Linked DNA regions of Homo sapiens. The protein of the gene in region 6 purifies or fractionates together with the protein of the main gene of each other region. This does not show direct contact. Each region holds a gene or a part of one and is shown on either strand. Other genes may lie near its edges.

The links.
Region 1: the proteins of DPF3 (region 6) and BICRA purify together in Homo sapiens (affinity purification with mass spectrometry, with the first as the bait; one large-scale study listed by BioGRID). This does not show direct contact.
Region 2: the proteins of DPF3 (region 6) and AGMAT purify together in Homo sapiens (affinity purification with mass spectrometry; 3 studies listed by BioGRID and IntAct, with this or other methods). This does not show direct contact.
Region 3: the proteins of DPF3 (region 6) and PYGB purify together in Homo sapiens (affinity purification with mass spectrometry, with the first as the bait; one study listed by BioGRID). This does not show direct contact.
Region 4: the proteins of DPF3 (region 6) and SS18L1 purify together in Homo sapiens (affinity purification with mass spectrometry; 4 studies listed by BioGRID and IntAct, with this or other methods). This does not show direct contact.
Region 5: the proteins of DPF3 (region 6) and BCL7B purify together in Homo sapiens (affinity purification with mass spectrometry; 3 studies listed by BioGRID and IntAct, with this or other methods). This does not show direct contact.
Region 7: the proteins of DPF3 (region 6) and TUBA8 purify together in Homo sapiens (affinity purification with mass spectrometry, with the first as the bait; one study listed by BioGRID). This does not show direct contact.

Annotation. Positions count from the first base shown.
Region 1 is NC_000019.10:47,615,634-47,619,133, reverse strand, and holds part of BICRA (BRD4-interacting chromatin-remodeling complex-associated protein), read right to left. Parts: intron 1-3,500. UniProt on the Homo sapiens protein: Component of SWI/SNF chromatin remodeling subcomplex GBAF that carries out key enzymatic activities, changing chromatin structure by altering DNA-histone contacts within a nucleosome in an ATP-dependent manner.
Region 2 is NC_000001.11:15,575,052-15,578,551, forward strand, and holds part of AGMAT (guanidino acid hydrolase, mitochondrial precursor), read right to left. Parts: intron 2,814-3,500; coding exon 2,634-2,813; intron 1-2,633. UniProt on the Homo sapiens protein: Hydrolyzes linear guanidino acids to form urea and the corresponding amines. Displays specificity for substrates having a negatively charged head group and short chains including taurocyamine, guanidino propanoic and butanoic acids.
Region 3 is NC_000020.11:25,282,585-25,286,084, reverse strand, and holds part of PYGB (glycogen phosphorylase, brain form), read right to left. Parts: intron 2,910-3,500; coding exon 2,808-2,909; intron 1,982-2,807; coding exon 1,834-1,981; intron 1-1,833. UniProt on the Homo sapiens protein: Glycogen phosphorylase that regulates glycogen mobilization. Phosphorylase is an important allosteric enzyme in carbohydrate metabolism. Enzymes from different sources differ in their regulatory mechanisms and in their natural substrates.
Region 4 is NC_000020.11:62,160,769-62,164,268, forward strand, and holds part of SS18L1 (calcium-responsive transactivator), read left to right. Parts: exon of another isoform or gene 1-667; coding exon 668-812; intron 813-1,983; coding exon 1,984-2,163; intron 2,164-2,689; coding exon 2,690-2,854; intron 2,855-3,376; coding exon 3,377-3,478; intron 3,479-3,500. UniProt on the Homo sapiens protein: Transcriptional activator which is required for calcium-dependent dendritic growth and branching in cortical neurons. Recruits CREB-binding protein (CREBBP) to nuclear bodies.
Region 5 is NC_000007.14:73,540,691-73,544,190, forward strand, and holds part of BCL7B (B-cell CLL/lymphoma 7 protein family member B), read right to left. Parts: intron 2,955-3,500; coding exon 2,858-2,954; intron 1-2,857. UniProt on the Homo sapiens protein: Positive regulator of apoptosis. Plays a role in the Wnt signaling pathway, negatively regulating the expression of Wnt signaling components CTNNB1 and HMGA1.
Region 6 is NC_000014.9:72,618,102-72,621,601, forward strand, and holds part of DPF3 (zinc finger protein DPF3), read right to left. Parts: intron 1,884-3,500; coding exon 1,802-1,883; intron 1,267-1,801; coding exon 1,196-1,266; 3' UTR 1-1,195. UniProt on the Homo sapiens protein: Belongs to the neuron-specific chromatin remodeling complex (nBAF complex).
Region 7 is NC_000022.11:18,124,309-18,127,808, reverse strand, and holds part of TUBA8 (tubulin alpha-8 chain), read right to left. Parts: intron 1,456-3,500; coding exon 775-1,455; intron 1-774.

The DNA.
Region 1 (3,500 bases), on a different chromosome or scaffold from region 6:
GCGCACGTTCTAGGGAGAGAAATTCCGCAGTACAGCAAGAGCTTGCTAAGCTGTGAGCTCAGACTTCTCCCAGGGAGAACTCCCGCACCCAGGCCGGGCGCCAAGTGTCTGAGGTCAATGAGACACTATGCGTGCCAGGTGATGGAGGTTATAGTCCAGCTAACTGTCACAGCCACCCTGTGAGGCAGGCGCTGTGGACATCTGCCCGCCCAGCCTCACACGGTGGACGAGAGTTGGCATCCAGCCTCTGGAAAGGTGGCTCCGGGGAGCTTCACCTGCAGGTGTCCCTGGACACTGGGCCATCCTCTGCCTCCAGGCAGCAGAGGCCACCAGGCGCTCCCTCAAGGACCCCAAGGGTCTTTAGCAAGGGTCTCACAGCCTCAGACAGATATTCCCGCTCACTCCGTTCCCAAGGTTACCAGGCTGGGACACAGAGGACATAAGAGGCTGAGAGGGGCCACGCTGAAGTTGGCAGCCCCCTAAACAGGCAAGCACTTCAAAGGGAGAGTGCAGAGGGACAGGGTGGGCATGGCAAGGGAATGAAGGTAGCGGGGCCGGGCTGGGGGGTCAAGGGGCATCAACCCTTCCTCTGCAATCCTAGAAACAGCATTTTTGTCCCCAACCTCAAGAGTATACACAGAAGCAATAACAACACTAACAATAGTGACCGTTTACTCTGAGCCAGGCACTTGCAAAACATCTTTTCCACGCTAGACCTTATTTAACAATAAGGTCATCCAAATAAGTATTTATTATCTCTCCTGTACTTCCAGTTCTCTAACCTGGACTAAAGGAGGGAAATAGCTTGCCACCAAGTCACAGGGTTAGAAGGAGCAGAAACAGGACTTTAACCCACACAGCTGACCCAGTTGCCCATCACCTCCAGGGTCATCCTAGGGGTCCATCCCCTGCTGCCAGCCCCACTTCAACTCTTCCTTTATGAGGACGATTTCTGCACAGAGTAACAGAACCTGTACCCCACACTGCATGCACCCAGGTGTGACCCCCAAACCTGTGTAATCAGAAACAACCCACAGGGTTTGAGGCTTGGTGTGGCCAAGACAGGGAATTCACCACAGTCCCAAAAAGGGGATCACAGAAAAAGGACCACCTGATCAAAGCCCACTCCCTGCTGCCTCAGTTTCCCAACCTATGAAATGGGCCTAATGCCACTTTCTTCATAGAACAGGACAGACTCTGGAGGTGCTGAAACAAATTCTGGATCCCAGAAATAACACCACCATTAATAACAATAATAATACAATGGAAATGATATGATATCTGGAATTTGCTTTAAAATACCTTGGCAAAAAAGAAAAAATATATGTGCACAGTAGGTAATGGCCAAAAAAAAAAGATCAGATCAGCAGAAAATTTTTGCAGAAGCTGGTGATGGTTACACAGGGGTGGTTGTGCTATTTTCTCAACTCTCGGTGAGTGCTTTAAAATTTCCTTAACAAAAAGTTAAAAAGGCCAGGTGCATAGCTCATGCTTGTAATCCCAGCACTTTGGGGGGCCTAGGTGAGCAGATCACCTGAGTTCAGGAGTTCGAGACCAGCCTGGCCAACATGGTGAAACCCCTTCTCTACTAAAAATACAACAATTAGCCGTGTGTGGTGGCAGGCACCTGTAATTCCAGCTACTCGGGAGACTGAGGCACGAGAACTGCTGGAGCCTGGGAGGCGGAGGTTGCAGTGAGCCGATATGGCGCCACTACACTCCAGTCTGGGTGACACAGTGAGAGCCTGTCTCAAAAAAATAAAAAATATAAGTTAAAATAACAATAAATAAATCTGCCAAGCCGAGTCTAGATGGCAAAAAAAAAGAAAAAAGAAAACAAAATAATAATAAACAAAGACGGCCAGGTGCAGTTGCTCATGCCTATAATCCCAGGACTTTGGGAGGCCAAAGTCGGAGGACTGTTGAGCCCAGAAGTTGGAGACCAGCCTGAGCAATATAGCAAGACCTTGTCTCTATAAAATAAAATAAAATATTTAAAAATAATAGGCCTGGTATGGTGGCTCATGTTTGTAATCCCAGCACTTTGGGAAGCTGAGGCGGGTGGATTGCTTGAGTCCAGGAGTTCGAGACTAGCCTGGCCAACATGGCCAAACACCAGCTCTACAAAATATACAAAATTAGCTGGGTGTCGTGGCCCACATCTGTAGCCATAGCTACTCGGGAGGCTGAGACATAAGAATCACTTGAACCTGGGAGGCGGAGGTTGCAGTGAGCCAAGATCACACCACTGTACTCCAGCCTGGGCGCAGAGAGAGATTCTTGTCTCAAAAAAAAAAAATTAATAAAAATAAAAGATAATAAGAATCAAAGTGAAGCTTCACTGAGCATTCCTGAGAGCCAGGTCCTATCCTAAAAAGCTTCCCAAGTCTTCACTCATTGAAGCGTCACAACACCCAAAGCGGGGAAGCTCTGTTACAGAAGAGGAAATTGTGGCCCAGTGGGTATTTGGGCATTGTCTTCCTTTTTTTTTTTTTGAGACAGAGTCTTGCTCTGTCGCCCTGGCTGGAGTGCAATCGTGCGATCTCAGCTCACTGCAACCTCCGCCTCCCAGTTTCAAGCGATTCTCATGCCTCAGCCTCCTGAGTAGCTGGGATTACAAGCATGCGCCACCACGCCTGGCTAATTTTTTTGTATTTTTAGTAGAGACAGGGCTTCACCATGTTGGCCAGGCTGGTCTCGAACTCCTGACCTCAAGTGATCCGCCTGCCTTGGCCTCCCAAAGTGCTGGGATTACAGGCATGAGCCACCAATGCCAGCCCTGTGCCTTCCATTTAAAATGCCAACACTGATTGCCTAGGGTTTGGGGGAAAGGCCATAGCAACTTGGGTATCTAATCCTATGGGAGACTCTGCTACTTAATAATAATTATTCCAATCACAGCCACTCACATTTTTTGGGCGCTTGCTATACCCCAGGCACTGTGCTGAACACTAAGCATGCCTGAGGTGGGTTTCCTCTCATGCCCACTCTTCCAGTTGGGGAAACTGAGGCACGGTACAGGGAAGCCCTGTGTGCCTCATGCCGGAGCAGCCTGCTGCGTGCCCTCTGCTGCCATGCAGTTTAGAATGCCAACATTGTTCCTTGTGTGCCTTTCAGGAAGACAATGGGGACCTTTCAGAGCGGAGGAGTCAGCATGAGTCCCGCAGGAGAACAGTAATCATAGTGAAAACAACAGCAGCATCATTTGCTAGTTCCTGAAAGCGACTGCCTGCCCAGCTTGGCAGAACATTGCTTCGTTCAGCCTCACAGCAGACCCTACGAGGGAGGCATCATGGGCCCATTTTATAGACAAGGAAACTGAGGCCATGCAAAGGAATTGCTTGCCCAGGGTCACACTGCAATTAAGCAGAGAAGCCAGCATTCCATCCAACACCTGCCAATTAAGGGGGTCACAGTCCCCAGGAGAAATAAACTGCCTAAGAATGACAGGTGACACCGACACTGACTGACAAGGCTACCTTGGCACTTTATGGGTGTTT
Region 2 (3,500 bases), on a different chromosome or scaffold from region 6:
GATGGAGACAAGGAAACCAATCGTTTCAATGTCATGCACCAAGGGCTTCAAGGAAAGCAAGCCCAGAATGGTATCAGCATAGGTAATAGCCTGGAGAGGTGGGTAAGGCTTCCCCAAGGTGGAAATACCCAGTTCAAGGGATAGGCCAGGCAGAGGGAAAAACACAGGCAAAGGCACCAAGATGGGAAAAGTTCAGGTAGTAAGATGTGGCCAGAAGACAGAGTAAGTGAGGGAGACTGATGGGAAGAGAGTGACCTTGTCTGAAAGGGTTCCCATCCTGCAGGTGAAAAGCCCAGAAGGTTGCTAAGCAGAGGGATGAGGAATGTGTTTCAGAAATCCCTCATGAGAAGAGAGGATGGTTACAGCCATTTCAAGAGAGAGAGTTATGGCCACCCTCCTTTAAGATCTTAGAGGATGTAAGGTACTTGATTAGGTTTAAGCAGTCTTCATTCATTTACTCTCAAATGTCTTTGAGTGCCTACTATTTGTATTAGGCACTGTCCTAGGCTCCAAGGACAAGGTAGGGAACAATACATAGGTCCTGCCCTTGGGGAGATTCTAGTCATAACCATTCTGCCCCCGTGCATTTACTCCCAGCACACATTATTGGAGCTTTATTTGGGTGTTTCTAAAACTCTTGAGCTTACCTTGGCAGGTAATTGTGCCATCACATGCACTTTTATTTATTTATTTATTTATTTATTTATTTATTTATTTATTTTTGAGACAGGGTCTCTGTCACCCGGGCTATAGTGCAGTGGTATGATCACGGCTCACTGAAGGCTTGACCTGCCAGGCTCAGTTGATCCTCCTGCCCCAGCCTCCCTAGTAGCTGGGACTACAGGTGCACACTAGCACACCAGACTAATTTTTATTTTTATTTTTAGTAAAGATGGGATCTCACTATGTTGCCCAGGCTGGGCTGAAACTCCTGGGCTCAAACGATCCATCCACCCTGGCCTCCCAAAGTGCTGAGGATAGTGCCTGAGCCACCGCGCCTGGCCCGTTGTATGCACTTTTATTTAAATTTAACCCTAAAAAGATAAGTTTAGTGTTTTTGTTTGTTTTGAGATGGAGTTTCACTCTTGTTGCCCAGACTGGAGTGCAATATCATGATCTCGGCTCACCACAACCTCAGCCTCCCAGGTTCAAGTGATTCCCCTGCCTCAGCCTCCCGAGTAGCTGGGATTACAGGCATGCGCCACCATGCCCGGCTAATTTTGTATTTTTAGTAGAAATGGGGTTTCTCCATGTTAGGCTGGTCTCAAACTCCCTACCTCAGGTGAACCACCCGCCTGATGCCTTGGCCTCCCAAAGTGCTGGGATTACAGGTGTGAGCCACTGCGCCCGGCCAAGTTTAGTGTTTTTGTTTGGTTGGTTGGTTGGTTTTTTTTTTGAGGTGGAGTCTTGCTCTGTTGCCCAGGCTGGAGTACAGTGGCACGATCTCAGCTCACTGCAACCTCCGCCTCCAGGGTTCAAGCAATTCTCCTGCCTCAGCCTCCCAAGTAGCTGGGATTACAGACGCCTGCCACCGTGCCGGGCTGATTTTTGTACTTTTAGTAGAGACAGGGTTTCACCATCTTGGCTAGGCTGGTCTCGAACTCCTGACCTTGTGATCCACCCGCCTCGGCCTCCCAGAGTGCTGGGATTCCAGGCGTGAGCCACGACACCTGGCCAAGTTTAGTGTTCTTTTTTTTTTTTTTTTTTTTTTTTTTTGAGATGGAGTTTCACTCTTTCGCCCAGGCCAGACTGCAGTGGTTCTATCTCGGCTCACTGCAAGCTCTGCCTCCCGGGTTCATGCCATTCTCCTGCCTCAGCCTCCTGAGTAGCTGAGATTACAGGCACCCGCCACCGCGCCCGGCTAATTTTTTTGTATTTTTAGTAGAGACGGAGTTTCACCGTGTTAGCCAAGATGGTCTCGATCTCCTGACCTCGTGATCCACCCACCTCAGCCTCCCAAAGTGCTGGGATTATAGACGTGAGCCACCGTGCCCGGCCAAGTTTAGTGTTCTTAAGAGAGGATACTATAATGTTGTTCCTATGAACTGTTGTTTTCATGACAGATGAACTGAAGGCAGGAAGAGCAAATAAAGGACAAAATAAGGGACTATTATATCCCAGATAGGAAATGAAGGCCCTTGCCAAAATCAATCACCCTTCAGTAAGAGGGTATTCAAACTTATCCTCAGCCCAGAGAACAGAAAAGGCCTAGGTGCTCTGCTCTTAAAATCCTACCTTGGCAGCCAGGCGCGGTGGCTGACACCCGTAATCCCAGCACTTTGGGAAGCCGAGGTGAGTGGATCACGAGATCAGGAGTTCAAGACCAGCCTGACCAACATGGTGAAACCCCATCTCTACTAAAAATACAAAAATTAGCCGGGCGTAGTGGCATGTGCCTGTAATCTCAGCTACTCAGGAGGCTGAGGCAGGAGAATCGCTTGAACCTGGGAGGCGGAGGTTGCAGTGAGCCGAGATCGCACCACTGCACTCCAGCCTGGGCGACAGAGTGAGACTCCGTCTCAAACAAACAAACAAAAATCCTATCCTGATTCCTAAAGATTCGCTTCAAGTCCCAGGAAAATGGGTGTTAAGTGTCTCCACCCCCAGGATCTTCACTGGTGGAATCTCCTTACCTGACTAGGAGTGAGACCAGCAATTTCAGGTGTCCCTGTCCCTGGCGCATAGGCAGGATCCAGAGCGTCAATATCAAAGCTGATATAAATGGGTTTGCCTCCCATCTGCTGCCTGACTTCCCCCATCAGAGGAACCAGCGACTTCATCCAGCAGTCTTCAGCCAGGACTACCCGGAAGCCCTGCAGAGACAGGGACTGAGGTTTCTGTCTGGCAGCATTTACAGGGCATTTCCTGTTTGCCAGCCCCATGCTCAGCTCTGTGTGCACATGACACTTGACCCTCCATCTCCATGAAGAGGGAACTATCCTATTTTACAGGTGAGGAAGGGAGGGACAATGAGTGGTAAGGAAGCAGGGTCAAAGCTGACTGATGGAGTTGGAATCAGAGAGAAGCTTTGCTAAAGCAAGAGTGGGAAACAGCAGCTCACGCTAGCACCTTTTGAATTGCTCTGTCCAGAAGACTGGCCTTGGCACGCTCTAAAAGCAAGGGATTTGGGTCTGTTCCATTGGGGTCTTGTCATACACGTCTATCTGAGAGCCATTCTGCCTAGAGGGTACGAGGACCAGAACTAAGAAGGTGGCAACTCATCTTGGGTCCGGACTTCCTCCCCTCTTTTTTTTTTCTTTTGAGATGGAGTCTCACTTTGTCACCTAGGCTAGAGTGCAGTGGCGCGATCTCAGCTCACTGCAACCTCCACCTCCCACGTTCAAGCAATTCTCCTGCCTCAGTCTCCCGAGTAGCTGGGATTACAGGTGCGCACCGCCACACCTGGCTAATTTTTGTATTTTTAGGAGAGACGGGGTTTCACCATGTTGGCCAGGCTGGTCTCGAACTCCTGACCTCAGGTGATCCACCCACCTTAGCCT
Region 3 (3,500 bases), on a different chromosome or scaffold from region 6:
AACTCAGACATCGCCAGACTTCTGCACACACACCCACCCTCCAGACAGTGCCCGGTAGGGCCCTAAAAAGCACTGGGGGAAGGAAGTGGAGTTAAGACTGGCATCTTCAGCCAAACCGACCTTCATGGTGAAGGGTCCAGGCCGTTTTGAACAAGCAAGAACTCGGGAAGGTTGTTCCCATGAGCCAGTCATGAACTAGACACAAAGTGGCCAGCAGGGCTGGGCAGCACTTTGCAGAAGGACCGTGAGAAGCAGTGAACATACTCACCACCAGACTCAAACTGATACAGCTGGGGACAGGAGGAAGGGCAAAGTATTGATGCTGTGAGCTCTGACAGTGGGGGAAGGAGACGCAGGTCCACCACAGGTACATGCACAGACACAAGCACACATGTTTACAGGCATGCACACATATACATTTATGCGTGCACACACAGACATGGAGCAAGGGGGAAGACCAGTGGGAGCGAGCACCAGCCTGTTGGCTGCCTCCTGTGAACGGCTGGAAATCACAGCGTGTCGTTCAAAACGAATGAACCAACCAAGCAGAAGTGGAGCATCTGGAAAGCCTGAAGGCCAACAATAGAAGACGATGCAACAACTGACGACTGGGGGTGGCGGAGCGGGAGGAGGAAAGCCTGAAGGCCAACACTAAAAGACGATGCAGCAACTGACTGTGGGGGTGGTGGAGCGGGAGGAAGGGAGGGGGTGACCCGCGAGTCTCACTGCCGCTCATCAATAGGACCAAGCGTTGTGCAAGCGGAGGACTCCGGGTCACCACCAGGGGAACACAGAGCATCACAACTGCAGGAGGAAAATGGGGCAAGGAAAGATGATGCAAAGTTCCCGTGCACCATCTCGGAGCCGGGAAGCCACAGCCCCGGGAAGCACCTCCCGTGGTGCCCACACGGCAGAGGGGTCCTCAGCGGGGGTGGCCTCTAGCCTCTGTCCTACCATGTGTGTCTCAAACGCACCCAGATCCTCCACCCCATCGAGGCTTACTCATTGGGAATAGGAGATCTATTCCCGGGAGGAGCTTTGTATCGGAAAGGAGGATGTGTGGTTCCTTTGGTTTTTAAAATACCTACTTTATTAAATTACAAAATTTTAGAAACCTAGTTTTTCCTTAAGGTTTCATTATCTATTAAACCTAGCAAATATTCACATTGACCTTTGGGGGTCTCTGTTTCATGTTTGTCTCATAATTAAATGTCCTTAGACATATAAGATGCATGTGTAAATTTAACACATACTATCTTAATTTTTGTAAGTATACTTTAAATGCCTCTAATAAGCATAATCTTTCTAAATAAGATTAGTCTCACAAAGATAATAACTAAATTTAAAATAAAAACTGAAGGCCCGGTACAGTGGCTCATGCCTATAACCCCAGCCTTTTGGGAGGCAGAAGTGGGTAGATCACTTGAGGCCAGGAGTTCGAGACCAGCCTTGGCAACATAGTGAAACCCTGTCTCTACAAAAAATACAAGGGCATAGTGGCGTGCGCCTGTAGTCCCAGCTACTTGGGGGACTGAGGTGGGAGGATTTCCTGGGCCCTTGGAGGTCAAGACTGCAGTGAGCCGTGATGGCACCACTGCACTCCAGCCTGGGCCTTTCGGGTGTCTAACTGTTCACCTGCTCACGTGAGGCCTGGCATGGGGCACACAGAAAAACATGGCTTTTGCTTAAAATAAACGTGCCACATCACACATGCACACGCCTATACACACACAGCCCCCACCATGACAGAGGCCCAGGGTCTGTGCACAGCTGGCGGGCAAGGGCAAGCCTTGGGCCCCACAGCGCGGTCATGCAGGTGATGCCGGCACTCACGATTGTACAGGGTGACGACGTGCAGGCAGTTGAGCAGCTGCCGCTTGTACTCGTGGATCCTCTTCACATGCACATCGAACATGGAGGAGGGGTTGATCTTCACCTTGTACTCCTTCTCCAGGAAGGCCGAGAACTTGAGCTTGTTCTCCTGGGAGGGTGAAAGGGAAAGATGGCTGGAGACTTCACCAGGACTCCATCCACTGACCCTGCGGCTTCCTGCTTCAAGTGCCCTGTGAAGAGTGCCGCAGGGAGGGGGCAGGGGTATACAGGCTGGAGCTGAGGGGCAGAGATTGCACCAGGGGTCTTCTCATGGGAAAAGGGGAGAGGGGGATGCTGAAGGTGGGTCCACACCAAGAGTAGGGGATAAGTGAGGAGCCGGCCCAGGAGCACGCCTGGAGCCAAGCAGAAGACACTGCAGAGCCAGGCGTGCAGGCGGCGGAGCAGCGCGGGAGCGGGACGGCTGAAAGGACTACAAGGAGAACTAGTTCTGGCCTCTATGAGGAGGCCAAGCTCGACAGGCTGTGTAGATGGGCCTCCAGCCCGCTGAGGTTTGAAGGCTGCCGTGACTGGCCCTGGTCTAGCCGAGAGGCTGCTGCCGGTGCAGACAGCTCGTGCACCTGCACAGCTCTCCAGGGGCAAAGAGGGTACCACGCTGGAATCGGCTTCTAGAGGCTTCCATACAGAACTGACCTGTGGCAGAGGGTCGAGGCACGGGCAGGGCTGGCCTGGGGTCTGCACTCACCTATCTGCCATGTGACCTGTCCTCCTCGGGGCCCTCATCTGAAAGGCTGAGTGGGGTGGAGAGACCTCAGGCAACCCTAACAGCCTCACCCTCAGTCCTGTTCTGAGTCCCCACTAAAGCCCCAGTGGGTACCCCAGGACCTGTGCTGGGCCTGTAGGAGGGCTAGGGCCAGGGCCTACCTGCCTGGTTGTGGGAGGGCTGGGGTCGGGGCTGGGGCCAGGGCCATGCCTACCTGTTTGACCTTGGCCACGTCCCTGATGAACACCTCGTCACTGACCAGCGGCAGCAGCTTCTTCAGCTGGCTCAGGTCAGTCAGGAACTCCTCCCCAATTTTCTGGAGAACGTAAAGGTTCCGCTCACTGTGGGCCTCAGCCTCCTGAGGCTGGGCCCCCTAGCCACCTGCCCTCCTCCCATTGTTGCCCACGCCCCTGCTTTCCCCTGGGATCTGCTTGTCCGGCCCCTCCGGGCATCCCACCTCTCAGGCCACAGGGTTACCCCAGCAGCCCCTCCTTCCTCTTCTGAGAGGGCTCTGCGAGATGGCCCAGTCCCACCAGTTCAAACGTCCACAGGAAACACACGACCCTCCCTCAGCCACCGATCCCAGGGTTCTCTGACATTGAACATCCCATCACCACCCAAAACCCAAAGCCATCCTCCCGCTGCCCTCCACCAGCACCTTCCCTGCCTGAAGCAGGCGGTCCCCTCAAAGCCAGCACCTCACCCAGGTGCTGCCTGCAAACACTCGGCCACCTCTCCTCACTGTACCCAGGCCCATCTCAGACTGCACAGGAGCCACGCTGCTTTCCAGGTCCCAGGGGCCCGTCCCCCAGCACAGGGCATTGAACCAGTTTGCCCCAGAGCACTGCTCACTCTCTCTTCATTCCCTCTTCAGACCTCAGCTTTCCTGGGAAGGCTTCCCTGACCA
Region 4 (3,500 bases), on a different chromosome or scaffold from region 6:
CTCCATTGACCTGTCAAATTGCACTTCTTCACCCTGCAGACACCCACAGGTCCTGGTGGAAATTTCCTTTTCTTGGCCAGGTGTAGACAGCATGTGTGTGCAGACCTCCAGAGCTGCTGGTTGACCTTGATCTGGGAGAGTGCTGAGGGCCACTTCACACTCACTCCCTTCTGTGCGGTGTGATCCGAGGCGGGTGTGGGGTGGGGGTAGTCGGGGAAGGGGCACATGCAGCAGGAGCACGGGAAACAGGAGAGGGATCCCACCTCTGCCGAAGCTCTTGGCACGGAGGGGTCGTGGTTGGGGAGCACAGAGGCGCTGGTCACCTGCGCCCGAGGGGGACGGGGTGCGTTCAGCCTGGTGGGCCGGGAAAGGGGTTCCCTGCTGTCCCAGGAGGAGGTCCAGCTTTTCACACCCAGGCACGTGTGGATGAACTTGATACTCAGTAGGGTTGTGAACGCTCACCCAGATGCTCACTCTGCCATCTCCATCTGGGCCTGGTGCTCTGCGGTCACCTGGCTGTGACGATGGCTGCTGATTACGAACATTGACCAGGTGGCCATGATGTGTGGCGGCAAATCTCGGGTGCCCTCTCATCCCTGGCCTGGCTTGTGGAGGTCGCTCTCCGTAAATTAACCGTTTTTCCCTGAAAACTTCCTGTTGCCTGCAGCCGCCCACGCAGAACATGAACCTGGGCCCTGGAGCCCTGACTCAGAGCGGCTCCAGCCAGGGCCTGCACTCTCAGGGCAGCCTGAGTGACGCCATCAGCACGGGCCTGCCACCCTCCTCCCTCCTGCAGGGCCAGATTGGCAACGGTGAGTGCGGCGGGGGAGGAGGACGTTCCTGGCTACGAGGCCACCAAGGCAGCCCTTGGGCAGCCGGCTGCCATGGTGGGGCACCCCACCCCTCACAGGGCTGGGCATGGGACCCACTCCTCCTGGGGTAGCCACAGGTCGGCTGCCATCGCCCAGGCTCAGGGCCGCAGCGAGCGTGCCGTGCGGCTGGGCTGAGCCCCTGCTCCAGTTGTCCACTCTCTCTGACACTGTCACGTTCCATCAAATTCAAATGCAAGTTGCGGGGTTCCAGGTGGATTGTGTAATAGGAATGGAATGCTCCTGTCTTTGGATTGAGAAGCATGGATAACGTTTGGAGACCATTAACAGTAATATAACAGGCCGGGTGTGGTGGCTCAGATCTCTAATCCCAACCCTTTGTGAGGCCTAAACCAGCAGACTACTTGAGGCCAGGAGTTTGAGACCAGCCTGGGCAATATGGCAAAGCCCCATCTTTACAAAAAATAAAAATATTAGCCGGGTGTGATGGTGCACACTTGTAGTCCAAACTGTTAAATACTCGGGAGACTGAGGAGAGAGGGTCACTTGAGCTTGGGAGGGTGAGGCTGAAGTGAGCCTTGTTCATGCCACTGCCCTGCAGCCTGGGTGACAGAGCCAGACCCTGTCTCAGAAAATAATAACAAAATAACAACAAATAAACGATTCATCCTGTGCTTTGCTAGCATGTACGCTGCTTTGTTTTCTTTTCTTTTTTTTTTGAGACAGAGTCTCGCTCTAGTCGGCCAGGCTGGAGTGCAATGGGCATGATCTTGGCCCACTGCAACCTCCGCCTCCCGGGTTAAAGCAGTTCTCCGGCCTCAGCCTCCCAAGTAGCTGGGATTATAGGCACGTGCCACCACACCTGGCTAATTTTTTTGTATTTTTAGTAGAGACGGGGTTTCACCATGTTGTCCAGGCTGGTTTCGAACTCTTGACTTCAGGTGATCCACCCACCTCGGCCTCCCAAAGTGCTGGGATTACAGGCATGAGCCACTGCTCCCGGCCACTTATTTATTAGTCACTTAATCATTAATAGTGCTGTTGATAGCAACTCTTCCCAAAGTCACTTGAAGGGAAATTGGGGTGTCTTCACCTTCAGAAGTGGTGACCTGGCTCCCCAGTGCCTGACACCACTCCCTGCTCCCCATGCCAGGGCCGAGCCACGTGTCCATGCAGCAGACGGCGCCTAACACGCTGCCCACCACCTCCATGAGCATCTCTGGGCCCGGCTACAGCCACGCGGGACCCGCCTCGCAGGGCGTCCCCATGCAGGGGCAAGGCACCATCGGCAACTACGTGTCTCGGACCAACATCAACATGCAGTCCAACCCAGGTACCTACTCTGCCTCTGCAACCCCGGGGGGCCTGGGCCTGCCTCCAAGACCCTTGACACATGCACGTTGGACATGTGGTCCCGGGGAAGCTGCCCTCCTGCTGGGTGCTGGAGGGGAGGGGCCCGTGAATCGGGGCTGGCCGCTGCCTCTGAGAGCTTCCGGAGGGATGGGCGCCAGTGGGTGCACGATCAACTCCTCCTGTCCCCCAGCTTTGCGAGGGGCTGGGGTGTTTCCCATGGAGTCTCAGGGAATGCCCCAGGGAGTGGGGGCCACTGGCCCTGGGTCTGGACAGACAGCACTGGGCTCTCAGAGGTGGGGTAGAGTCGGTGCAAGCAGCGGGTCTGAGCTTGCAGGGCGTCAGTGCAGGCCACGTAGGGGAGGCGTGCCTTGCGGTGGAGGACGCTGTCCTCGTGGGGAGCACAGGAAAATAACGAGGAACCCGCCCGGGCGCAGGAGGTAGTTGGGTGTGGGAGGGAGGGCGGGAGGCTTCCCGGGGTGATGTGGGGCCTCTGTCCTGTCGTTCAGTCTCCATGATGCAGCAGCAGGCGGCCACGTCGCACTACAGCTCGGCGCAGGGCGGCAGCCAGCACTACCAGGGCCAGTCGTCCATCGCCATGATGGGGCAGGGCAGCCAGGGGAGCAGCATGATGGGGCAGCGGCCCATGGCGCCCTACCGGCCCTCCCAGCAAGGTAACGCCCGGCCGGGCCAGGTCGCGGGCACAGCTGACCGCCGCGGGTCGTGAAGTGCCAGGCTGTGTGTGCTTCTCTTCGGGGAGCCTGGGGGAGTGAGGCGGGGAGCCTGGGGGAGTGAGGCTTGGCGCCTTGGTGTTAACATTGAGTGTGGACCCTGGGGGTGAGGGCCAGGGTGTGGCCCGTGGAGGGTCTGCTGTCCCCGAGGAGTCAGTGTTGGGGGCAGGGGCGGCAGTTGTCATTAAGAGTGTCACAGGCCGGGCTCATGCCTGTAGTCCGAGCACTTTGGGAGGCCGAGGTGGGCGGATCACCTGAGGCCAGGTGCTCAAGACCAGCCTGGCCAACATGGTGAAACTCTGTACTAAAAATACAAAACATAAGTTGGATACGATGACAGCGTGGGGTGTTCTCCTCGGGTGGGTGAGGCCATTCAGCAAGGCCTTGGCTTCCCCAGTGAGCGAGCAGGTCCTCTGAGGGAGGAGGGCGCGGCCCGCACTGGCGCTGAATGTGGTTCCCCCGCAGGCTCTTCCCAGCAGTACCTGGGCCAGGAGGAGTACTATGGCGAGCAGTACAGCCACAGCCAGGGCGCCGCGGAGCCCATGGGCCAGCAGTACTACCCCGACGGTGAGCACTGGCGGCGGCCTGA
Region 5 (3,500 bases), on a different chromosome or scaffold from region 6:
GTGGTGGTGGGCACCTGTAGTTCCAGCTACTCAGGAGGCTGAGGCAGAAGAATGGCATGAACCTAGAAGGCAGAGCTTGCAGTGAGCCGAGATCGCGCCATTGCACTCCAGCCTGAGCAACAGAGCGAGACTCTGTCTCAAAAAAAAAAAAAAAAAAAAAAAAAAGAGTTACCAGGCCGAGTGCAGTGGCTCACGCCTGTAATCCCAGCACTTTGGGAGGCCAAGGTGGGCGGATCACTTGAGGTCAGAAGTTTGAGACCAGCCTGGCCAACATGGTGAAACCCCGTCTCTACTGAAAATACAAAAATTAGCCGGGCATGATAGCACGCGCCTGTAATCCCAGTTACTTGGGAGGCTGAGGCAGGAAAATCGCTTGAACCCGGGAGGTGGAGGTTGCAGTGAGCTGAGATCGTGCCATTGCACTGTAGCCTGGGTGACATGGCGAGACTCCGTCTCAAAAAATAAAAATTAAAATTAAAAAAAAAGAAAAAAAGTAAGAGTCACCAATGCATTCCTCCGCTGCACCTACAGTAGCCAGTCACCAAAGTGTTTCCCCCTCCTGCTCTGGTATCATTTGTGCTCATTCCTTCCTCTCCTACTGCTTCAGTTCAAGCCTCATCATCTCCAGCCTGGCCTCCTGCAACAGCCACATACCTCACTGCCCTGCCTCCAGTCTCACGTACCTTAAACTGAACTGCAAACCACTGCCAGAGAGACCTTTCTAAACCCTTCGACGCTCCACTGCTGCCTAAGGGAGAAATGTCATACCCAGTACTTTTTTTTTTTTTTTTTTTGAGACCGAGTTTCGCTCTTGTTGCCCAGGCTGGAGTGCAATGGTGCTATCTCAGCTCACCACAACCTCTGCCTCCTGGGTTCAACTGATTCTCCTGCCTCAGCCTCTTGAGTAGCTGGGATTACAGGCTTGCGCCACCACGCCTGGGTAATTTTGTATTTTTATTAGAGACGGGGTTTCACCATGTTGGTCAGGCTGGTCTCGAACTCCTGACCTCAGGTAATCCACCTGCCTCAGCCTCCCAAAGTGCTGGGATTACAGGCATGAGCCACCACGCCCAGCCATACCCAGTACTTCTTAGGAGAGGCAGGAGCTGGCCTTATCGCAACATAGGAAGTCCTTTCTGATCTCTGGCCTCAGTGCCTACTGTTCTCCTACAAGCATCCTCAGCTCCAGGCAGACTGGACCCTAACCCAAGAGCTTCGTCATGCATGGGTGCTTCTGCCCAGCTGTTCCTTGGCTAGGCTGCCTTCTCTTGTCCTGGAAAGCCTCAGACCTCCCAACACAGCCCCGACATCACTTCTTCCGCGGAGCCCTACCTCCCTGGCTCGCATAGGTGGAAATGCCCACCCTCTCTTACTCTCCTGTGATAGCCTGTGCACGCCTGCATTTATCATTTCGCACACGTGCTTCCTCCCATGAGCCTCTGTGGACAGGCTCTGTGGCTCACTTGTCCTTGACTCCCCAGTGCAACGCACGGTACCTGCATACAGTGGGAGTTCATTAAGTGTTTACTAAATGAAAAGGAGGAGATGGTGGCCAGACTGAGGAAATGGAGCCTCATATGTCTCCCAGAGCCTTCTGACTACTGAACACACGTTGGTGTTCCCTTTCCAACAGCACATGGTTGACCTTGGTGGGGCCTGGGAAAGAGGTGGGGAAGGAATAACTACACGCTGGGTTAGCTCCAATCTGGTTTTGAAGAGAAAGTCATAAACTCATGCTAGTCTTGACTCCTATAAAGACCTTTAATACCCACACTAAAATGGAAGTAGCATTTTGTCACCAAATGAATAAAACTGTCACTTTTGAGCTTAGACAAAACACTGTTCCTCCCTGAGCATCAGTTTCCTTAAATAGGGATGATAATAACTGCCTGGTTTATATCACAGGCTGATACATGGGTAAAAATGAGAAAGTAAAGTAAAAGTGCTTCGTAGACAGTACCTAGCAGGTAGGTGTAAAAGGCAGTATCATGACTACGGTGATGATCCGGCGGGATTGGTTTAGGAGGCAGAACATGTCCTAACAGTGGGTAAGCAGAAGCTTCGGCTTTGGGTAGCCTACTCTAAGCGACTATGATAAAACATACAGTCTAGGCCAGGTGCAGTGGCTCATGCTTGTACCTTGGGAGGTCAAGGCTGGGGGACTGCTTGAGGCCAGGAGTTCACAACCAGCCTGGACAACATAGCCAGACTCTGTCTCTACAAAAAATAAAAAATAAAAAATGAAGTACAATCTAAAAAAAAGCTTCTGATTCGGACAACCAGGACCTGACATGGAGTCTGTCACTTACAAGTTATGTAACTTTAGACACGTAACTTAACCTCTCTGAGCCTCAGTTTCCTTAACTGGAAAATGAGAATACCATTACCTATCTTGCAGAGTTATCGTGAAGTTTAAATGAAAAGATTTAGGTCAAGTGCCTCGCAAAATACCAGCGAAACAGCAGGCACTGAATTGATACACAGAATTCTTTTTTTTTTTTTTTGAGACGGAGTCTCACTCTGCAGCCCAGGCTGGAGTGCAGTGGCGCAATCTCGGCTCACCGCAACCTCCACCTCCTGGGTTTAAGCGATTCTCCTGTCTCAGACCCCCGAGTAGCTGGGATTACAGGCACGCGCCACCACGCTCAGCTAACTTTTTGTATTTTTAGTAGAGACTGGGTTTCACCATATTGGCCAGGCTCGTCTTGAACTCCTGACCTCAGGTGATCTGCCCGCCTCAGACTCCCAAAGTGCTGAGGTTACAGGTGTGAGTCACTGCACCTGGCCAATTCTTCTTATTAATGCATTCATCCAAGTTTTCATTCTCCTGCAAGGAAGACACAGAGATGCAACTCACCCTGGAATTCAAGAAGGAGAGAGGAATTGGCTGAGGCATCAGAAGGAAAGCCATTAGGTTCTCGGGCTGCTGAACTGTTCGATTTTGACTTTTCTTTCTAGAAAAGGAAAAAAAGAGGAATATGACAGAGCCAAGCAGGAGACTCACAGAGAGGGAGGAGGGTGCTATGTGACAGACCACAGAGGTCTGGATTAGGACTGAACAGGAAAAACGACAGCAGCGTGAGAATCCAAGGACCCAAGGAAGAACAGAATCCTGGACAAGCAACTTCTCCTCAAGCCTCAGAAAAATGAACCCTTCCAGCAGGAATACTGTGAATCATAAGCAACAGGCAGATACATACACTTCGACTAGAACATCCCATAGTATCCCTCTCCTGCCCTGATCAAATTGCGCCAGGCAACCCTTCTCTATACGAATGGGCAAGAAATACAAAACACTCATTTGAGAAAGATTCCTGTTTCAGTAGCAGAGTGGGGAAAAAGTGAGAGAAGAAGGAACCTCATGTAACACAGACAGTGACAGGACAAATGGGCCCAGGCTGGCTCTATTCCTGATCCGTCATCCTCATCCATTCAAAACGACCACCCCAGCCGGGCGCACTGGTTCACGCCTGTAATCCCAGCACTTTGGGAGGCCAAGA
Region 6 (3,500 bases):
GAGACAAGAGCAGCCCCCGCACTGAGAGTTCTAAAATGTGGCCACCCTGGTCGTGAATAATGACCATGTCACCCTAATTATTTGTTTAGATAACAATCTTCTCTCCCCCATCCTAAAATTCCCAGTCAGGTCTCAGTAGACAATAGCGAACAAACACTACGTGGAAGGAAGAAATTACTTGGAAAAAGGAATTCAGAGCGTCGCATCAATACTGAAGGTTTCTCAAAGCTGCAGCCCCCTGTATCCAGCATTCGGACACATGATTGGGCAGCCTTCGCTCCCCTTCCTGGTTCTTCAGTCCCACCAGGAGAAGCTGAACCAGGTCTCCAGAACCAGGTGGGCTGAGAGGCAGAGGCTTGACCGTCTTCCTCTGTCCATAGGCCATGACTGGTCTCACCTAAAGGATGCCCCAGCTCTGAAGGTCAAGGAACCAGCCTGGCCTCTTGCAAAGTCTCTCCCGATGGATAACAAGTACTGACTGGCTATGGCGGGGCCTTGGCACCATTTCCACAATGTTTCCTCCCATGTCTCTGCGCGTCTCCCTCCCTCCCCGCCCCCATCTAGTAACTTTAAGCAGTGGCTCAAGACCAGGCTGGCTGTGGATGCCACTGCTGGGGTTCTAGAAGGCAACTCTTTGTCTCCACAGACACCAAGGAACAAGAAAGGGTTTCAAGACCCCAAGTCTAGAAGTTTCCAGTGAGGCTTGCCATAAACGACAACTTCTCCACAGCCCTTTGTTCCTCAGGTGAGAATTTCAGGATGCAGACCCTAAGCTGGGGGCACGGGGGCTGTGCCAAGATTTCTTGGAACACAATAGATAAAAAAACACCACACTACACACAAGTAATGGATGAGTGGTCAGGAAATGGCTTCCCTTAAAATGGGAACCAATGAGAGGGCCTCGGTGCTAGGGTAAAAGTGAGAGGGGTTCCACAGGGCTGGGGCCGGAGGTGTTCTCCCAAAGTGCAACTTCCTTCCGGTAGAGACAAGGAGGTGCTGGCTGAAGTTCCGTACATATCGGGGGAGGTCAGGAGATGCCTCACCCTCTTCGTTCCATGTGTCCCTGCCCCTCTGGGACTATTTCTTTTCCTTGCAGTTGGTCTGGCTGGATATGTGGGAGGAGGGCGCGTTCTGGTTTGAACTGGGCTCTGCTTTAGGATCTCCAGCAGCGAGTCACATTCTGTGACCTGGGGCCCTAGGCCTGGCAGCCAAAGGCTGAGGCTTTCTCTTTGAGCAGTTCCCAGCATAAGTGGCAGCTCCAGCTTCCTGCAAGAAATGAGACGGCTTTAGTAGCAGCCCCTCTGCTAACTCTGGAGCCCCACCCCACTGGCCCTAACTTCTTGTAAATCCTGTTTCCTTTGAACTTTGGCAATGCAGAAACCAAGTCCCAGGCCTGAAAACGTGCCAGAGTCTGTGGCTCAGCAGAAAGCAGGTGCTCAGAGGAGATGGGCTCAACTCTTATCAAGACCCTCACTACTAGCGTCATGCCTCCAAACTAGTGTCGCCGGGCCTGCGCCAGTTCTCCTGGAAGCTCACACCTCCCGGTCATCTCCACTGCATGTCTGGGAAAAACTTCCTTGGCCCTCAAGTTGAAATTTCAGCTGCTTGGACTGTGCCTCAGTTTCCTCATCTGTAAAATGGCAGTCGTCGTACCTACCTTGTGGGGTTGTGATGATTAAATGAGACAAGACATGAACATGTAAACCCATTAGCATAAGGCCTGTACCATAGTGAGAGCTCAGTAAGTGCTAGTAGTAGTAGTATCTGTTGCTGTTCTTATTGTTGACTTCATCATCATTACCTTCTGGGGGCTCAGCCACCGGGGGATTTAAACAGTACATGTGATAGCCTCGGTCACAGTCATCGCAGAAGAGTAGCTGGTCCTGGTGGAACACAGAGTAAGCACAGAGGAGGAGAGATTCCATTATTCGGGGCCAATGTCTGGCCCCCGCTTACCCATCAGCCTTATTTCCACGTCGGTCTCACTGGATCCCCTTTCCAGGCCCCACTTGGAGTCCTCACTGTCCCCTGAACACGCCTGTGCTTTTCCCACAACTGGAGTTTCCCCCTCTACCTCCCAGCCTATATAAATCCTACCCCCATTTTAGGGTTCTGCTCAACTCGTACCTCCTCCAAGACGCCTTCTGTGACTAACACCTCACATCCAAATTTAAAGGGATCCCTTATTCTTCTGAACTTCCAAAGCCAATAGCTCTGCTTCCAAAGGGCAGAAAATGTCTCTATTCTCCATGACTTTATATATTTGAAGATCTTAATTGAATTCTTCTGGACTCCACTCTCTCCATCTGTGAAATGGCCAACAGCTGTACTGGGATGAACCTCAGAACCTCTTCAGGGTTTCATTAGAATGTAGAAAAATGCAAGTAGCGCCATCCCTCGGCTTCCAGAAGCTTCCTCACTGTCTGGAGGCTGGAGCCCGGGTGAGAGCAGGGCACCCCAGGGTTGTGGTTAACTTCAAAGGACACAGGCCATATCTTTGCACCTATGGCTACTTCTGCCTGGAGGCTCTCCCAGGCCCTGACCCTTTCTCTGCATGTCCATTCCCTGCCTGCCCTTCAAGTACGTCTTCTTCAAGCACTTCTTTTCCACAAAGTCTTTGCTAATCTACCTCAACTGGAAGTTGTCTCTTCCCTCGTGCAGCCCTGTGGTACTTTCCCTTTCTGTGACATTTAAATGCATTTTCCTTTACGTTACATGCCTGGCATGTGGTAGACATCTAATCACGTTTGTTTTCTTGGCTGGGCGCTGTGGCGCATGCCTGTAATCCCAGCACTTAGGGAGGCCAAGGCGCGTGGTTCACTTGAGGTCTGGAGTTCGAGACCAGCTTGGCCAACATGGTGAAACCCCATCTCTACTAACAATACAAAAATTAGCCAGGCATGGTGGCGTGCACCTGTAATCCCAGCTACTCAGGAGGCTGAGGCAGGAGAATCTCTTGAACCCGGGAGGTGGAGGTTGCAGTGAGCCAAGATCGCACCACTGCACTCCAGCCTGGGCAACTGAGTGAGACTCTGTCTCAAAAAAAAAAAAAAAAAGACATCTACATGTTTGTTTTCTTGAATAGTTCATTTGGAACATGCCTCTTTTTTCCACCCTTTATCCCCTTTATGGACTATAAAGCCCTTGGGGGCAAAATCTTGTTTTCCTCATCACTGCATCCACTGTAGAGACTTCCTTGCATACAGGAGCTGCTCGGAAACTGTTTGTGATCTGGCCCCACCCCCTAGTTTCAGCTCTGTTCTATTTGGTGATTGTTGAAACTGTTTGGATGGCTTATGAGCCTTTTTCAAAATAAAGTTTTATATCAAATCTCACCTTGGCCCCCACCAGTGCAGAAATCCTGGATAAAATTAGATATAGCTGTTGGAATCCCCAGGGAGCAAGCAATGAGGGCTTTTTTTGTCATGCTAAAACCCGTCAGTGGGGCAACAGGAAAGCTTTTGAAGAGTTATCAACAGGGGAGTGATACGATCAGATTG
Region 7 (3,500 bases), on a different chromosome or scaffold from region 6:
GGAGAATGGCGTGAACCCAGGAGGTGGAGCTTGCAGTGAGCCTAGATCGCGCCACTGCACTCCAGCCTTGGTGACAGAGCGACACTCCGTTTCACAAAAAAAAAAAAAAAAAAAAAGTCCGGGCACAGTGGCTCACGCCTGTAATCCCAGCACTTTGGGAGGCCAAGGCGGGCGGATCACGAGGTCAGGAGATCGAGACCATCCTGGCTAACACGGTGAAACCCCATCTCTACTAAACATACAAAAAATTAGCTGGGCGTGGCGGCGGGCGCCTGTAGTCCCAGCTACTTGGGAGGCTGAGGCAGGAGAATGGCGTGAACCTGAGAGGTGGAGCTTGCAGTGAGCCCAGATGGTGCCACTGCACTCCAGCCTGGGTGACAGAGTGAGACTCCGTCTCAAAAAAAAAAAAAAAAACAAAACTAACGTTAGGCAAATTGAACCAAATCATGAACACCAAAAGCACTGTACTTCAGGTGAGTAGATTTGGGCCAATACCAAATCATTACTTGTTGCTCAGTAAACAAAACCAAAGGTGATTAACCAATTAATCAATTTAAAATAGCACCAAACTTTTCTAAAATGGCCTAAACAGACAAAACTTTGACAGCACTTGTGTCTCAACCAAAGCTGAATTCCATTCATGTTACATTTGGTTGAAGTCCCCCTCCCCTTATCATCACATAAAGCCTGAAGCGCCCATGGAATTGCATATCCTTGGTCACCTCCCTCTGCTTCTCTAGTCCTCTCTCCCCTTCCTAAGTCATCAGCTCTCACCTTGAAGCCTGTGGGACACCAGTCTACAAACTGGATGGTCCTCTTGGTCTTGATGGCAGCAATAGCGACATTCACATCCTTGGGCACCACGTCGCCCCGGTAGAGCATGCAGCAGGCCATGTACTTGCCATGTCTCGGGTCGCACTTCACCATCTGGCTGTTGGGCTCAAAGCAGGAGCTGGTTATCTCGGCCACAGAGAGCTGTTCGTGATAGGCTTTCTCGGCAGAGATGATGGGCGCGTAGGTGACCAGCGGGAAGTGGATGCGGGGGTAGGGCACCAGGTTGGTCTGGAACTCAGTGAGGTCCACATTGAGGGCCCCGTCAAAGCGGAGAGAAGCAGTGATTGAGGACACAATCTGACTGATGAGGCGGTTGAGGTTGGTATAGGTAGGGCGCTCAATGTCAAGGTTCCTGCGGCAGATGTCATAGATGGCTTCGTTGTCCACCATGAAAGCACAATCTGAATGTTCCAGTGTGGTGTGGGTGGTCAGGATGGAGTTGTAGGGCTCCACCACTGCAGTAGAGACCTGGGGGGCTGGGTAGATGGCAAACTCCAGCTTGGATTTCTTGCCATAATCCAGGGAGAGGCGTTCCATCAGCAGAGAAGTGAAGCCGGAGCCAGTGCCCCCACCAAAACTGTGGAAAATCAGGAAGCCCTGCAGGCCAGAGCAAGCATCTGTCTAGGGAGAGCAGGACATGAGAAGAAATCATGAAGACAAGTTTCCGAGAACACCCCACAGTAAAAAAGCCAGACCGCCCACTCTGTCTGCCTCATATTTTTTTGTGGATGAAATCAAAACAGCTTTGAAGAAGTAAGGAAACAAAAGGAGTTGTATTGATCTTTGGAGGAGTGGCTAAAATATGGGATGGGGCCAGGCACAGTGACTCAATGCCTGTAATCCCAGCAGTTTGGGAAGCTGAGGCAGGAGGATCCATTGAGGCCAGGAGTTCACAACCAGCATGGGCAACATAGTGAGACCTCGCATCTACAAAAAATTTTAAAAGTTAACTGGGCGTGGTGATGCACACCTGTAGTCCCAGTTACTTGGGATGCTGAGGTGGGAGGATCACTTGAGCCCAGGAGCTCATGGCTGCAGAAATCTATGATCACACCACTGCACTCTGGCTTGGATGACAGAGCAAGTCTCTGTCTCTATTTTTTTTAATAGGATGACAAGCTGCAGGGGCACACGCCTCTAGGTACATGAAGGTTTCAGCCCAGTAACTTGGTTGAACAGGGAATGAGAGTTTCAGAACCACAGTGGATGGTGACTTTGCCCTTTGAGGGCCCCAACTCCTTGCCCACTTTCCCTGCTCTTGTCATTTGATTTTGTGGGAACTGCTGCCGACACACTTCAACCCAACCTTGGAAGGTGACTCAGGGCACCAATTTCAGAAAGGTACATGGAGCCAGAAAGCCTGAGTTCTAATATCAACTTTGCCATTTCTTGGTTGTAAGAACTTGAGCAAGTTACTGAACCTCTCCAAACTTCTGTTCCTTTTTTTTTTTTTTTTTTTTTGAGACAGAGTCTCGCTCTGTCGCCAGGCTGGAGTGCAGTGGTGCAATCTTGGTTCACTGCAAACTCCGCCTTCTGGGTTCAAGCAATTCTCCTGCCACAGCCTCCTGAGTAGCTGGGACTACAGGCGCATGCTACCATGCCCAGCTAATTTTTTGTATTTTTAGTAAAGATGGGGTTTTAACATGTTGGCCAGGATGATCTCAATCTCTTGACCCCGTGATCCACCCCCCTCAGCCTCCCAAAGTGCTGGGATTACAGGCATGCGCCACCATGCCTGGCCACTTCTGTTCCTTCTTAGTGAAAATGGGGACAATAGAAAATCCTCATAAGGTTATTGTGACAATTAAATAAAATAGCATAACATGCTGAGCAAGGGCCTGATACGTTGTAAGCACGGATGTCAGCTCTCACCAGAGAATTCATAGAATCACAGGATTTTCCCACTGGGTGTGATTTGAACTTTTGGGGACCACAGACAGCTTTGAGGCCAATGACCCTGACAAGCCCTCCTCTAAACAGAAAAAGTGAATATATGCAAAAGTTTGGCACCCTTACCTCCCAGGGAAAGAACATGTGATCAGGTCCAAGCTTTTCCATTATACAGATAAGCAAATGGAAGCTTAAATAAATAAAGTGACACAACCTACAACTCAAGAGCTTTGTAGTCCAACTGAGTTCAAACCCCAGCTCTGCCACTTTTTAGCTGTGTGACCCAGGCTAAGATATTGAACCACCCTGGCCCTCAATTTCTTCATCTGTAAAGCACAGGAAGGACACCTCCTAAGTCTAATTATTAAGGATTAAATGAAGGAATGTGCTTAACATCTGTAATGGCACTTGTAAGTGCCCAAATGTATCAACAATCTCTTCCTCTCCTCTTCCAAGTTAAATGCTTTGTTAACCTGTGTTTCCGACCAGCAGAGACCTCATCCTGCCTTATACCCGGAACCTTCCCCAGATACTAACAGAGAGTATCAATGAGTATGAGTAGGGCCTCAGCCTGGAACACAGTCTATGATGCCAACACAGAGGAAGGGGCATCACCCCTGTGCATGCTTCTTACAGAATTTAAGCAGAAATTCCCAAACCTTAGGAGCTCCATCCTATAGCCAGGGGTCAGATGCCTCTCCCTAGCCTGATCAAAGAGGCATGGGGCCAAGCCTGTCCACTCCAGCCTGACCCACCCGTCCCCTGCCCTCCTGATC